Regions from separate parts of the Homo sapiens genome. Here all the other regions are linked to region 2. The links come from fine-mapping of genetic effects on gene expression. A gene starts in region 2. Each other region holds a variant in brackets. All regions are shown on one strand. Distances are between the middles of the regions.

Evidence for each region. PIP is the estimated chance that this variant, and not a neighbour inherited with it, causes the effect.
Region 1: its variant is fine-mapped to the expression of GNG4 in testis (GTEx, PIP 0.97).
Region 3: its variant is fine-mapped to the expression of GNG4 in tibial nerve (GTEx, PIP above 0.99).

What each region holds. Positions count from the first base shown.
Region 1 is chr1:235,552,042-235,556,243 of GRCh38, forward strand. GNG4 (G protein subunit gamma 4) reads right to left here. Exons shown (of 4, transcript NM_001098722.2): 4 at 1-196. The coding sequence ends at 68. Among named protein-coding and RNA genes, the nearest start is that of B3GALNT2, 50 kb to the left of the region's middle. The variant G/T (reference allele first, on the strand shown) is at 1,999.
Region 2 is chr1:235,647,651-235,651,879 of GRCh38, forward strand. GNG4 (G protein subunit gamma 4) reads right to left here and starts at 2,134. Exons shown (of 4, transcript NM_001098722.2): 1 at 2,012-2,134. RefSeq lists enhancers at 339-633, 3,099-3,950 and a silencer at 1,999-2,108.
Region 3 is chr1:235,622,244-235,626,472 of GRCh38, forward strand. All of the region lies in intron 1 of GNG4 (G protein subunit gamma 4), which reads right to left. Among named protein-coding and RNA genes, the nearest start is that of GNG4, 25 kb to the right of the region's middle. RefSeq lists an enhancer at 424-924. The variant T/A (reference allele first, on the strand shown) is at 2,529.

The DNA of each region.
Region 1 (4,202 bases), 96 kb before region 2:
GAGCATGCATGGTCTCTACAGGGGACTTTGAAGGTCAGAAAAGGAGGCGTTTTCATCACACACGGAGTTAGAGAATGGTACAAAAGAACTTCTTCTCGCGAAAGGGGTTTTCTGATGCAGGCACTGGAATGATGAGAGGATCTTCCCGCACGTGAGCTTCACAGTAGGCCAGGAGGTCCGCAGCTGCCTGGGAGACCTGTGAGGGCACAGAGCACAGGTGCTCAGTTAAAGGCCCCTTTGCAGAGTGAGTCCAGGGAAGAGGTGTCCACGTACAGAGGGGACAAGCCCTAGGGTAGGCTGTATTGTGTGCACGGCCTACAACATGGTCATGCCCAGGCTGGAGGGAGGGTTTGTGCAGATCTAGGAGACTGGTTCGAAGCGGGCCTCCAAGAAGGGGAGGCTGCCCTCGCATGGCAGGCCAGCATGGAGACAGGACTGAGGGCTGGCAGGAGGCCCAGACAGCCTTGATATATTCTCGAGTAGGTGAGGAGTGGAGGTTCCAGGACAGTAGTCTCACAATGACTTTGCTAAACCGTTTCTGGAAGACTAAAGCAGAAGGCAGCCCCTGGCCAAGCCAGTGTGATCATATTTATTATCATTATTAGTTGTTTTATTGCAATCCACTCTTGTGACCAACACAGAGAGACACTTCATCCTCCTCAACAGAACTTGTATTTAGCTATATTTTATAAGCACACGTTTTATTTTTATTCATTTTTCATTTTTATTTCTTTTTTTGAGGCAGAGTCTCGCTCTGTTGCCCAGGCTAGAGTGTGGTGGCGTGATCTCCGCTCACTGCAACCTCCATCTCCTGGGTTCAAGTGATGCTCCTGCCTCAGTCTCCCAAGTAGCTGAGATTACAGGCACTCACCATGCCCAGCTAATTTTTGTATTTTTAGTAGAGATGGGGTTTCACTATGTTGGCCAGGCTGGTCTCAAACTCCTGACCTCAGGTGATCTGCCCACCTCGGCTTCCCAAAGTGCTGGGATTACAGGCATGAGCCACCGTGCCCAGCCAGCACACATGTTTTAACTTGGAGTGGCCACTTCCCTGCGGAGAGAGGTGCTCCTGACCAGAAAGTTCTTTCCATTCCATTTCTTTCCAGGCTTATCTGAAGCCTGCTGGCGCATGGCAGTTGTGCATCAAACTGTCCCCAAGCTCAAGGCCAGAGGAAGAGCAGGTTGGGAGAGGGCGGGGTGCGGACAAGCATTTGCTAAGAGGGAGAGGCAGTTACCAGCTTATTTTGTTCATGGTCTGTGTCATGTGCTTGGCAGATAAATGGCCTGTGCATTAACTCATCCTGCCAATTAGGCTGTTCTGCCTGCGAGTATTTATTAGCGGATTACAGGCAGGGGTAAATACATAGCAGTCAAATGAAATCCTTTTAGTACATTCAATGTCTAAATCTTCCCCAGAATGATAAAAATGTTCCACAGATGAAGAAAAAAAATGTTTAGAAGCCTCCAGCTACACAGGCCATACACATTCCCTTCTGGGTTTTAAAAATTGGCTCATCTTTCAGCATTTTACAGAGATTCTTCTGATTTTCAGACCTAACCGCTTTAGCAATGGCTAGAAATAATTCCAGCAGAGATATACAATGAATCAACTAAACACATCACTCAAATAAATCAACTTGAAGTTTAGCAGATGAGTTAGTCTAAATCCTGACAAAACCTACATTTGTTAAGAATGTGGCATGGAGAAATGAGTTCCGGTGAACATCAGGCTTCTAGATCTACCCCCGCCCGTAAGCTAGCTGTGTGACCTTGGGTAAGCAGCTCAACCTTTCTGAGCTTCACTTCCCTCATTTGTAAAATTCAGGAGCGTTGGAGAGCTCTAAGGTCCCAATTTACTCTAAGACGTCTATGATTCTACCTTTAATAGCATGGTCAGTATTTAAGATCCTAAAAACGTGTATGTTGAGTTGAATAGGAGTGTTTGAAGTTTGCAGTGGGTTACAGGACGCCCATATAGGAATTTCCCAGATGGGTGAG[G/T]CTCAGGGGAAAACTGAGCCTGTGGGGGGCCTGTGAAGCCATCACAAGGAGCAGGAGCACAGGCTTAAGGAAATGGACTCTGAGGCCCACAGGGCTGCGATGGACACACAAGAGAATGGAATCACATGGTGAGTGCTGCAACTCAAAGCCGGTGGACTTGGGAGATTGAGCCCTCCCTTGCTGCCACCTTCTAAGGAAAGCCAAGTGCCCTCCCCAACTGCTGGAGTGATGACCTCCTTAGTTTCCACTCCTGGCTTCTCACCATGCCCAGAGATGCAGAAGCTGCTGAGGTCTGGGGTCTCCCTCATGGCCACCATGTTAGGACAGCCACTAAATTCATCCATTGACCCCTCTGGCAACCCCTGGGCAGTGGTCTTCACTGCTGCCTGGGCAGCACACACAAGGGCTGCAGTGTTGGAACAACCACATTCCTCCTCTAGGAGCCACTGTCCTCTTGGGTTTGCTAAGTCTAGGCCCCTGACTCCAGTGAGCTCTTCTGGGAGTTCCGTTTAAGAATGGCTCGGCTGGACGCAGTGGCTCACACCTGTAATCCCAGCACTTTGGGAGGCCAAGGCGGGTGGATCGCCTGAGGTCAGGAGTTCAAGACCAGCCTGGCCAACATGGTGAAACCCCGTCTCTACAAAAAATACAAAAAATTAGCCAGGCGTGGTGGCGGGTGCCTGTAATCCCAGCTACTCAGGAGGCTGAGGCAGGAGAATCGCTTGAACTCGGGAGTTGGAAGTTGCAATGAGCTGAGATTGTGCCACTGCACTCCAGTCTGGGCAACAAGAGTGAAACTCCATCTCAAAAAAAAAAAAAAAAAAAAAGAACGTCTCGTCTGACTATCATGCCCTCTCCAGTTTTCTAGTTTTCACTTTTCCCATCTACTTCATTTTTTTTGGACATGCTCCAGTTTCATCTGAATTCTCTATAATCCTCGTTATGTCATTCAGAAAGGAAGTATTCACTATCTACCCTTTAGCTAATTCAGAGGATGCAAGAGAAAGAATAAGGCAACAGTTTTGCCCTCTAGAAGATCTCACTGTGATCTCAAACATGATGAAGTCACTATAATAATCCATGTGTGCTGAAATGTCACAAAAGAACACTTGCACGCCACTGTGGATCCATGATGAGAGGCCAGGAGACGGGGCATCTGACAACCTGTCCAGTCCCAGACAGTAGAGGACACCTTGGTGAATCTGCCCCCTTTCTTCAGAGGGCAATCACTGGACTTCTGGGCCCAGAAACACAATTTCCTGGCACACTCAGAATAGATCATCTCTTGTGGCTGACCCATATTAAACAAGCTCAGGAGGCAGCTGGATAAAACCATAATACAAATAGAAGCTAACATTTACATTTACTGAGTGCTTCTCAGGTGCCAGCACTATGCTACATGCATCAGATGTATTATGTCATTTAATTCTTCTTATACGTACGACTCTAGCCTGGGCAACATAACAAGACTCTACCATAAAATGAAAAAATTAGCCAGGCATGATAGTGCACACCGGCAGTCCCAGCTACTTGGGAGGCTGAGGCAGGGACATCGCTTGAGTCCGGGAGTTCAAGGCTGCAGTGAGCTGTGATCGCACCACTGCACACCAGCCTGGGTGGCAGAGCAAGACCCTGTCTCTAAAAAAAAAAAAAAAAAGTAGAATTCCTTATTTATAATTGACAAATAAAAATGGAATATATTTATGGTGTACAACATGATGTTTTGATACGTGTATACATTATAGAATGGCTAAATCAAGCTAACTGACATATCTATTACCTCACATACTTTTTTTGTGGTTAAAAACATAAAATTTACTCTTTTAGCAATTTTCTTTTTTCTTTTGAGATGGAGTCTCACTCTGCCATCCAGACTGGAGTGCAGTAGGGCGATCTCAGCTCACTGTAACCTCTGCCTCCTGGTTTCAAACAGTTTTCCTGCCTCAGCCTTCTAGTAGCTGGGGTTACAGGCTCCTGCCACCATGCCTGGCTAATTTTTAAATTTTTGGTAGAGATGGGGTTTCTCCATGTTGGCCGGGCTGGTCTCGAACTCCTGACCTCAGGTGATCTGCCCGCCTCGGCCTCTCAAAGTGCTGGGATTACAGGCATGAGCCTCTGAGTCTGGCAAGCAATTTTCAAGTACACATGATAAGTATTATCTTAAAGCCACTTTACAGATGAGGAAACTGAGGCACAAAGGTTAA
Region 2 (4,229 bases):
CCCACCTCATGTTGTTTATTTATTTTGAGGCCAGAGTGCAGTGGCACCATCTCAGCTCACTGCAACCTCTGCCTCCCAGGTTCAAGTGATTCTCGTGCCTCAGCCTCCCAAGTAGCTGGGATTACAGGCGTGCACCACCACGCCCGCCTAATTTTTTGCATTTTTAGTAGATACGGGGTTTCACCACGTTGGCCAGGCCGGTATCGGACTCCTGACCTCAAGTGATCTGCCTGCCTCGGCCTCTGAAAGTGCTGGGATTACAGGCGATGTTCCCACCTGATGTTCTATCATTTCAAAGAATGCACTGAATATTGGGGGACTTCAGGGACTGTCACTTTTGCTTTAAAAACTGTAAAGTGAATCTAGGAAAAGCTTTTTTTTTTTCTGGTTTCTCCACCATCAGTTTGCATGAGAAACGCCAATCATAGGACTGCTGGGAATGGCCCCTTAGCTGTGCTGTTTCTGAGCCAGGCCTACATCCTCCACTGGCTTCCTTGGGCGAATTTTAAGGCCTATGAGCACTGGAGTTGTGCATGGAGGTGGGGGCCAACAGGAAGTCCATTGTCCTAAATAGTCATTTCAGCCTAACTAACCCCATGGTGAGGCTGCTCATTAACAGGCAAGGCATCACTGTAAACCTTGCATTTGCATTTACACCTACTATTTATTAAGTGCCACAGCCATCTCTTATCATGACCGGTCACTGAGCAAACCCTACATTTCAAAAACAATCCAGTTTATAGGTCCTCTGTCTGTTTCTCCGGGCTGGAAAAGGCTTTCCATTTATCAACTTAGTTGTCCCCCCAGTCGCCTCTTGCAGGGAACAGGGCCAGATCAGATGGCGGCTGGTTCCCCTCCCCCGCCTCATACAAAAATCAGGAAAAGGAGTTGCGGGAGGAATCGAGAAGCCGGCCGCAGAGCCCAGGTCCCCCATGGCTACTGTGAGGCATTCGCCGCTGCAAATTTCCTGTCCACTGTGGGAAGCGGCACACCTCACTCATGAGCAGACGACAGGACTGGCACGTTTTAATGGAGCACACGGGCGCAGCCTAGGCGGCCTTTTGCTCCGGCTGAGAGGCACGGGCCCGGTGCCAGCATTTGACAGTCCTGGGAGGCGACGGGTAGAGGAGAGACGCGGCAGCCGCGGGGCCGGGGAGACGGTGGGAGGCCCGGCGTCCATCATCCACTTTATTACTTGATCAAACTTTAACATTTTCGGGTTTCCTAACACCTTAGCCCCAAATACTCGAAATGAAGCAAATCTTAAATTAAGGAGTCTTTCCCCACCACGCTCTGTCCTCCTCCCCACTTCACCCTCCCGCCGTTTCGCGTTATTTCCAAGGCAATTTAAAAAATCAAGCCAAACAAAGCTCCCCGGTTGCTGCCGGGCGCGCGCGGCGAACGAAGCACATTTCAGTTCAGCACCAGCCTCGGGGACAGACGCCATCAAGGAGGTGAGGAAAACCACCCTCAGCTGCGGTGGCTCCAGCGTCACCCCGAGTGCTCCCGAGGCGGCGTCTGGGCTGCTGGGGAGCCAGGAGGGCTTCCTCAGGCACTCGCCAGAAACATTTCCCCAAAGAAAACGCCCAACCAGCCACGCCATCTCCTGCCACTGAGGTCCTTTTCCACGGGGGACGTCCCCGCTGGGAAAACAGCAAACGCTCTGTGACCTACAAATGGAAGAGGGGACCCCCGAGCCCCCGCCTGCCTCATGCCGGAGGGACCGGGCGCCCCCAGCCCCGGAAGCCCCTGGACGCGCTCCGAGGGGGCTGTCCACACCCGCGCGCGGGCTTCCCCGGGGCCCGGCGGGAGGTCCCGGGAGAGGAGGCCGAGGGAACCACAGGTCTTTGTGTCGCGTGCAGCAGCAGCTGGCGGCGTGAGGACCACACCGGCGCCAGAGCCGTCTCCCTAGGTCCGGAGACTTTCACCCCGAGTTTCCCTTCCGCGTCTGGCTGCACCGGGCTGGGCTCTCCCCGCGGACACCCGGGGCTCCGGCCGGGCGCCCACTTACCCGGAGCGGGATCACGCGCGGGCTTCGTCTGCAGCGCGGTGCTCGCGGGGGGCGGCCAGGCCGAGCGGCATCGCTCCGCATCGGGGCGCGGGCCGGGCTCGGGTGCAAACGCGCGCCTCGTGCCCCTCCCGCCGCCCGCGGGGTCTCCGCGTCCCGTCACCGGCCCCGCCCCGCGCCGCGCCTCCCGCCCTGCAGGGCCCGACCACGCGGGCCTGGGGGCGCAGGCGGACCCTCCCCCGGCCCTGGACGCTGGGGGCTTCTGCTCGGCCCCCTGTGCCGTGGGGGCCCAGACTGGGGAAGGGAGAGCCGGCGACTCTGCGACCCTCGCCCCCGTTCCACGCTGGCCGCGCCCACTCCGCCGCGGGGTCTCGCCCGGGAAATCCCGCCCGCTGCCACCGACGTCACTGCTGCGTCACCGGGGCTCCCGCGCTCCCCGCCCCCGCCCCCGCCCCAGCCCGGGCCCGCGCCCCCCGCCCGCTACTCGGGCCCACGCCCCCTGTCCCAGCAAAGGGCCGCGCCCCCGCCCCGCCCCCCCGGAGCCCGCGTGGCCGGGGGACCACTGGAGGGGTCTGTGGGGCGGGGCCGGGGGGTAAATCACTGGGGGGGGGTCTGGGGGGCGCGGCGGGGGGGAGATCACTGGAGGGATCTGCGGGGCGGGGCCGGGGGGGAAATCACCGGAGGGGTCTGGGGCGGGGCCGGGGTTGCTGGAGGGGTCTGGGGACGGGGCCGCGGTCAGCGCGGGCTCCCCGAAGCCTCAGGTACCGCCCTCGCTCGGGGTGAGCTCCAGCGCCTGGGCCGTTGGGGCGCGGGCCGCTTCCCACCCTGCACCAAGGGACGCCTCGGAAGCCTCCGGCCAAGGCGGGGAACGGCGGAGAAACGCGGAATACCTGTGCGAATTCGCGCGGCCGCGTCGCCACTAACCCGGCGAAGGCTGACCCGACGTTGCTGAGTGACGGGGACCAGGGGCCGGCGAGGCCCCCACTCCGGGGGGAGCGAGGCCGGGAGGGCGGAGGGCGCGTGCTGGAGGCGGGGGTGCCCTTCGCGCCCCGGTTCTAGGAGCGACTGCTCTCCAGGCCTCGTCCCTGTGGCACCGCAGGCTTTTGCGCTGGAGATTTTAAAACACTTTAGTGATTACAGCCCTCTTCCTTTCAGGGAAAAAACAGTTTAAGCGCCGTCCATTTTCCGACTTGGTAAAATAATACGAAACCTTGGGAATAGAGAAGCAACGAAAACATTTCACGCAGTGTTGGCAAGATTTGTAGAAAAGGAGGCCAATATTAATTCCCTTTGTGAAAACAACAACATAACATCATGATGAACGATTAGGAAATATTTCGGGAAGATCTGGGCGCCTCATCCTCATCCGCCGTCCACAAGCGGTCCCTGCCACAAAGGACACAGGGCGCGCTTGTTGCTCAGATCCCTGGCCCCACTGGTTGGACCTTGCCCTACACACACGTGTACCTTCTCGGAGCCCAAGGGCCAGATTGGATGCGAACGCGGAGATCACAAAGGCCCGTAAACACGGGGCCAGCAAACACATCGGTTTTTACAAAGCTCTCAAGTGCCCATTTAAGGCACAAAATTAAACCTTGGCAAACCGACGAAGCCAGTCCATGTCCACCTCACAGACTTTTAAAAGTGAGAAAGATATATGAGTACTGCATTGAAAATTCAAGCAAATCCAAACCCTAGCTCATTGTTTTCACCCCAAAATCTTATTTCTCCTGCATTTCCTGCCCACCTCCCGCCCCCGACTGGTTGGCTAAGGCAGAATCCTAGGTTTCCTTTTATCCCAAATCCCAATCTCAATTAATCAATCACAAGGGAAATCAGTGTCTACACTTTCAAGCGCATCATTTCCTTATTTTATCTTTCTAATTGTTACACTATCATTCAAGATAGGATCATGTCAGTTTTAAACAGGAGGAAGAGGTCAGTCAACAAGTGGTTCCAGAGTGGATCCCAAGACCAGTAGAATCAGCGTGTCACCTGGGAATCTTTTAGAGATGCAGACTCCCAGGCCCCACCCAGACCTAAGGAATCAGAAACTCTGGGGGTGGGGCCCAGCAACCTGTGATTCCCCAAACCCTCCAGGTAATTCTGATTCCGTTCATCTCTGGACATCACCCAGGATAGCTGCAGTAGTGTAAAGTCTGGCACCAGGACCCTGGGTATCAGTTTTCTTTCTTCTTATTTATTTATTTTTTTTGCGGAG
Region 3 (4,229 bases), 25 kb before region 2:
GATTAGGTGAGGTTAGATTCTGATCTCAGCTTAATTTTTAGTCTTTGCAACTCCAAGAGACGTGAGTAGTGGTATGAATCCTAATTCTGTTCTCAAAGCTTTTGCTATGTTACTTTGGTTCTGTCCTAAGCATGTGTAGCTAAGGGGTGAGGCTGGAACTTTTGTGGTTCATAAAAAGAGTTAGATGAGGCTGGGCGCGGTAGCTCACACCTGTAATCCCAGCATTTTGGGAGGCTGAGTTGGGCAGATCACTTGAGGCCAGGAGTTTGAGACCAGCTGGGCCAACATGGTGAAACCCCATCTCTACTAAAAATACAAAAATTCGGCCAGGCACGGTGGCTCACCTGAGGTCAGGTGGCTCACCCAGCACTTTGGGAGGCCGAGGCGGGTGGATCACCTGAGGTCAGCAGTTCGATCACCTGAGGTCAGGAGTTCGAGACCAGCCTGGCCAACATGGTGAAACCCCGTCTCTACTAAAAATACAAAAATTAGTCAGGTGTGGTGGTGGACCCCAGCTACTCAGGAGGCTGAGGCAGAAGAATCGCTTGAACCTGCTGGGAGGTGGAGGTTGCAGTGAGCCGAGATTGCACCATTGCACTCTAGCCTGGTGACAGAGTAAGACTCCATCTCAAAAAAAAAAAAAAAAAATAGCCAGGCGTGATGGTGCATGCTTGTAATCCCAGCTACTCGGGAGGCTGAGGCAGGAGAATCGCTTGAACCCGGGAAGCAGAGGTTGCAGTGAGCTGAGATCGCGCCACTGCACTCCACCCTGGGCAACAGAGCGAGCCTCTGTTTCAAGAAAAAAATAAAAAAGAATGAGATGATCCACTTCTCACACTCTCTCCTCTCCAGGGTTTCTGCCACACCCTCCAGTTCAAAAGGGCACCTTTTCCTGTTTCCCTGACCAGAAAGACAGGGTTTATCTTGGAGATTTAGCCTGCATGCAGCCACCACTGTGCAATTCTGAACTGGGGCCCGTTCTTGGGGCAAAGCTGTGAGAGAAAGGAGAAAAAGAAAAAAAAGGATCACAGGGTTCCCTTTCCCCAGTTCCTCTCGCCAGCCATGTGGGGTTTCCATCAGAACATTCGCTACCTGCACGGCCACCGCTGCAGCCCTGCTCTTGGGCCCACTCAGGTCAAAGCCACAAGAATAAGGAGAAAACAAATGTAAAGGACACTCCCATCCACACAGGTGACTTCGTGGCTTCTGCCTGTCCTCCCCAATCCACATGCTCTTATGTGATTCGTGAGTCCTCAGGGAGTTGCTTTTTATATTTTTCCAGCGTTTTTGCTGCAGTCTGCAGGAGAGACGGGCTGTAGCGGGCTTGCTCCATCCTGGGCTCTCCATATGCCACTCCCTCTGCTGAGAACGCTCTTCCTTTCTTGTCTGGTGAGCACCTATTCCACTCCCATACCTTGCATCAGCTGTCCTGACCTCCAGGGAATCTTTCCTGACCTCCAGAGGATCTTTCCTGACCACTTTCACCTTTTAAATTCAGAGCGGGGGGTGCCTCCGCCACAGCAGCCCCCCTCATCATGCTGTCTCCCCAGCAACCAGCAGCTGGGGTAGGAGAAAGACCTCCTCTTTCATGCACATCTCTGTATTCCCAGCTTGCAAAAAGCTGAGGGAAGAATGATTATTTCTATTATCTATCTGATTCTCTACTAAAGAGACAAAATGGACATCTAAAAATCACAATAACACAAAAACTCCACAATGTTTAAATGCTGTGAGCCGAAGACGGAGGGTCCTCCGAGCCTTTGCCTGGCCAGAGTACAGGTGAAAAGCACATGCCTGAAGAGCGTGGCTCTAGCAGTCCCTTCAAAGATCATCTAGTACTTCAGTCTGTGTGGCCAATTCCTTTTTTTTTTTTTTTTGAGACGGAGTCTCGCTGTATCACCCAGGCTGGAGTGCAGTGGCGTGATCTTGGCTCACTGCAACCTCTGCCTCCTGGGTGCAAGCAATTCTCCTGCCTCAGCCCCCCGAGTAGCTGGGATTACAGCCACGCACCACCACGCCCGGCTAATTTTTGTATTTTTTTTTTTTTAGTAGAGATGGGGGTTTCACCATGGTGCCCAGGCTGGTCTCAAACTCCTGACCTCAAGTGACCCACCCGCCTCAACCTCCCAAAGTGTTGAGATTGCAAGTGTGAGCCCCCGTGCCCGGCTGCCAATTCCATTTTGACATGATATTGTTTCAATAGAAAGGCTATTTTTACAAAGTAGAAAGTGACAGTTAGAGGAAAATGATAATTTTGAGTTTTCCATTTCATTTTTTAACTGAAGAAAAGACAAAAGCTGTCATATTCCAGCTCCTAGCATTATTCAAGAAGAATGAATTTTCTATAACCATTCCTCGGGCAAACCATTCATTTTTACATTCCTGAAGAATTAACTTTGTTAAAAAACAGGATGTCTTTGTTCCAGAGTATCAAGGTTTTGCTTAACATTGTGTGCAATTTTGCTTCTCATTTCATTTGCTTCCTATGAGATTTTTTTAGCGCTAAGACAGATCAAAGAAGGTTTCCT[T/A]GTTGCCTTTGGCTCCACTACCATTTCCTCTCCCAGCTCCTCAGCTAACTGGTTATTTGCTTGGCCAGTAGTGCTATTTGCAAACAGGCTCCTGAACACTGGGAGAAGATGGTTGCTGGTAAATTGCAGCTTGTGGGAATGTCTGCAACACACAGCTGACTTTCTGGAACGTGGGGAACCGCTGACCTCAAACGTAGGTTCAAGGAGGAACCACAGCCTGCTGAGGACCCACACTGAGGTGCTGGTGGATGCGGGCAGCTGCCAAGCTGATGAGGAAGGGTTTCCAAGAAGCAGGTCAGGGCCCCAGCCTGGCAAAGGGGCTCTGGGGCTCTGGGGGAGGGAACGAAGATTGATGTCTTTTGCAGGCCGACCCTGTGACCCACACAAAGCCACAAGAATGATATCCCTTTCCCTTGCTTTCTCCTCTTGCCCTGGGACAGTACTTTTCTTCCCCATTTTCCTAGCCTTCTTCTGCAAACTTCCCGGCATTTAAAAAAAATAAACTTTATTTTTTAGAGCAGTTTTAGGTTCATAGCAAAGGTGAGCACAAAGTACAGAGTTCCCACATAACTCCTGTCCCCAAATAGGCGCAGCCTCCCCCATGAACATCCTGCACCAGAGTGGTCCATTTGTGACCATCAATGACCCAACACTGACACATCAATATCACCTAAAGTCCATAGTTTACAATAGGGCTCACTCTTGGCACTGCACATTCTATGGGCTTTGACAGATGTCTAATGACAGGTGCTCACTATTATGGTGTCACACAGAGGAGTTTCCTGCTCCACCTATTCAACCCTCCCCAACGCCACATTCAGAGCAGGAGGTGCCTCCACCACAGCAACCACTGATCTTTATACTGATTCCATAATTCTGCCTTTTCCAGGATGTCATATAGTGGGAATCACAGTATGTAGCCTTTTCAGACTGATTTCTTTCACTCAGCAATACGTATGTAAGTCTCCTCTATGTTGTGTCATGACTTGATAGCTCATTTCTTTTTTAGTACTGAATACTATTCCATTTTCTGGATGTTTCACAGCTTATTTATCCATTCACCTACTGAAGAACATCTTGGTTGCTTCCGAGTTTGGGCAATTATGAATAAAGCTGCTATAAACATCTGTGTGCAGGTTTTCGTGTGAACATAAGTTTTCAACCCAGGAAAATTCCAAGGAGTGCAATTGCTATAGCATATGGGAAGAGGAGGTGTCGTTTTGTAAGGAACTGCCAAACTGTCTTCCAAAGTGGCTGTTGCATTTTGCATTCCCAACAGCAATGAACAAGAGTGTCTGCTTCTGCAGATCCTGGCCCGCTTTGTGTATTCTCAGGGTTGTGGATTTTGGCCATTCTAAATGGTGTGTAGTGGTTTCTCCTCCTTTTCATTTGCATTTCCCTAATGACATATGATGTTGAGCTTCTCTTCAAATGCCATCTTTGTATCTTTGGTAAGATGCCTTTTCAAAACTTTTGCTCATCTTTAATAGGATTTTGTTTTGTTTTGTTTTCTATTGAGTTTTAAGAGTTCTTTTGTATTCTGAGTGACAGCATTTATCAGATGTCTTGCAAATGTCTTCTCCCAATCTGTGACTTGTCTGCTCATTCTCTTGACTTTCCCAAGCTTTTCAAAGCTCATAGGGAGGGCCTGGGACTAGAGGGAGGCTAGTGAGGGACCTAGAACACAGAATTTAAAGAGGT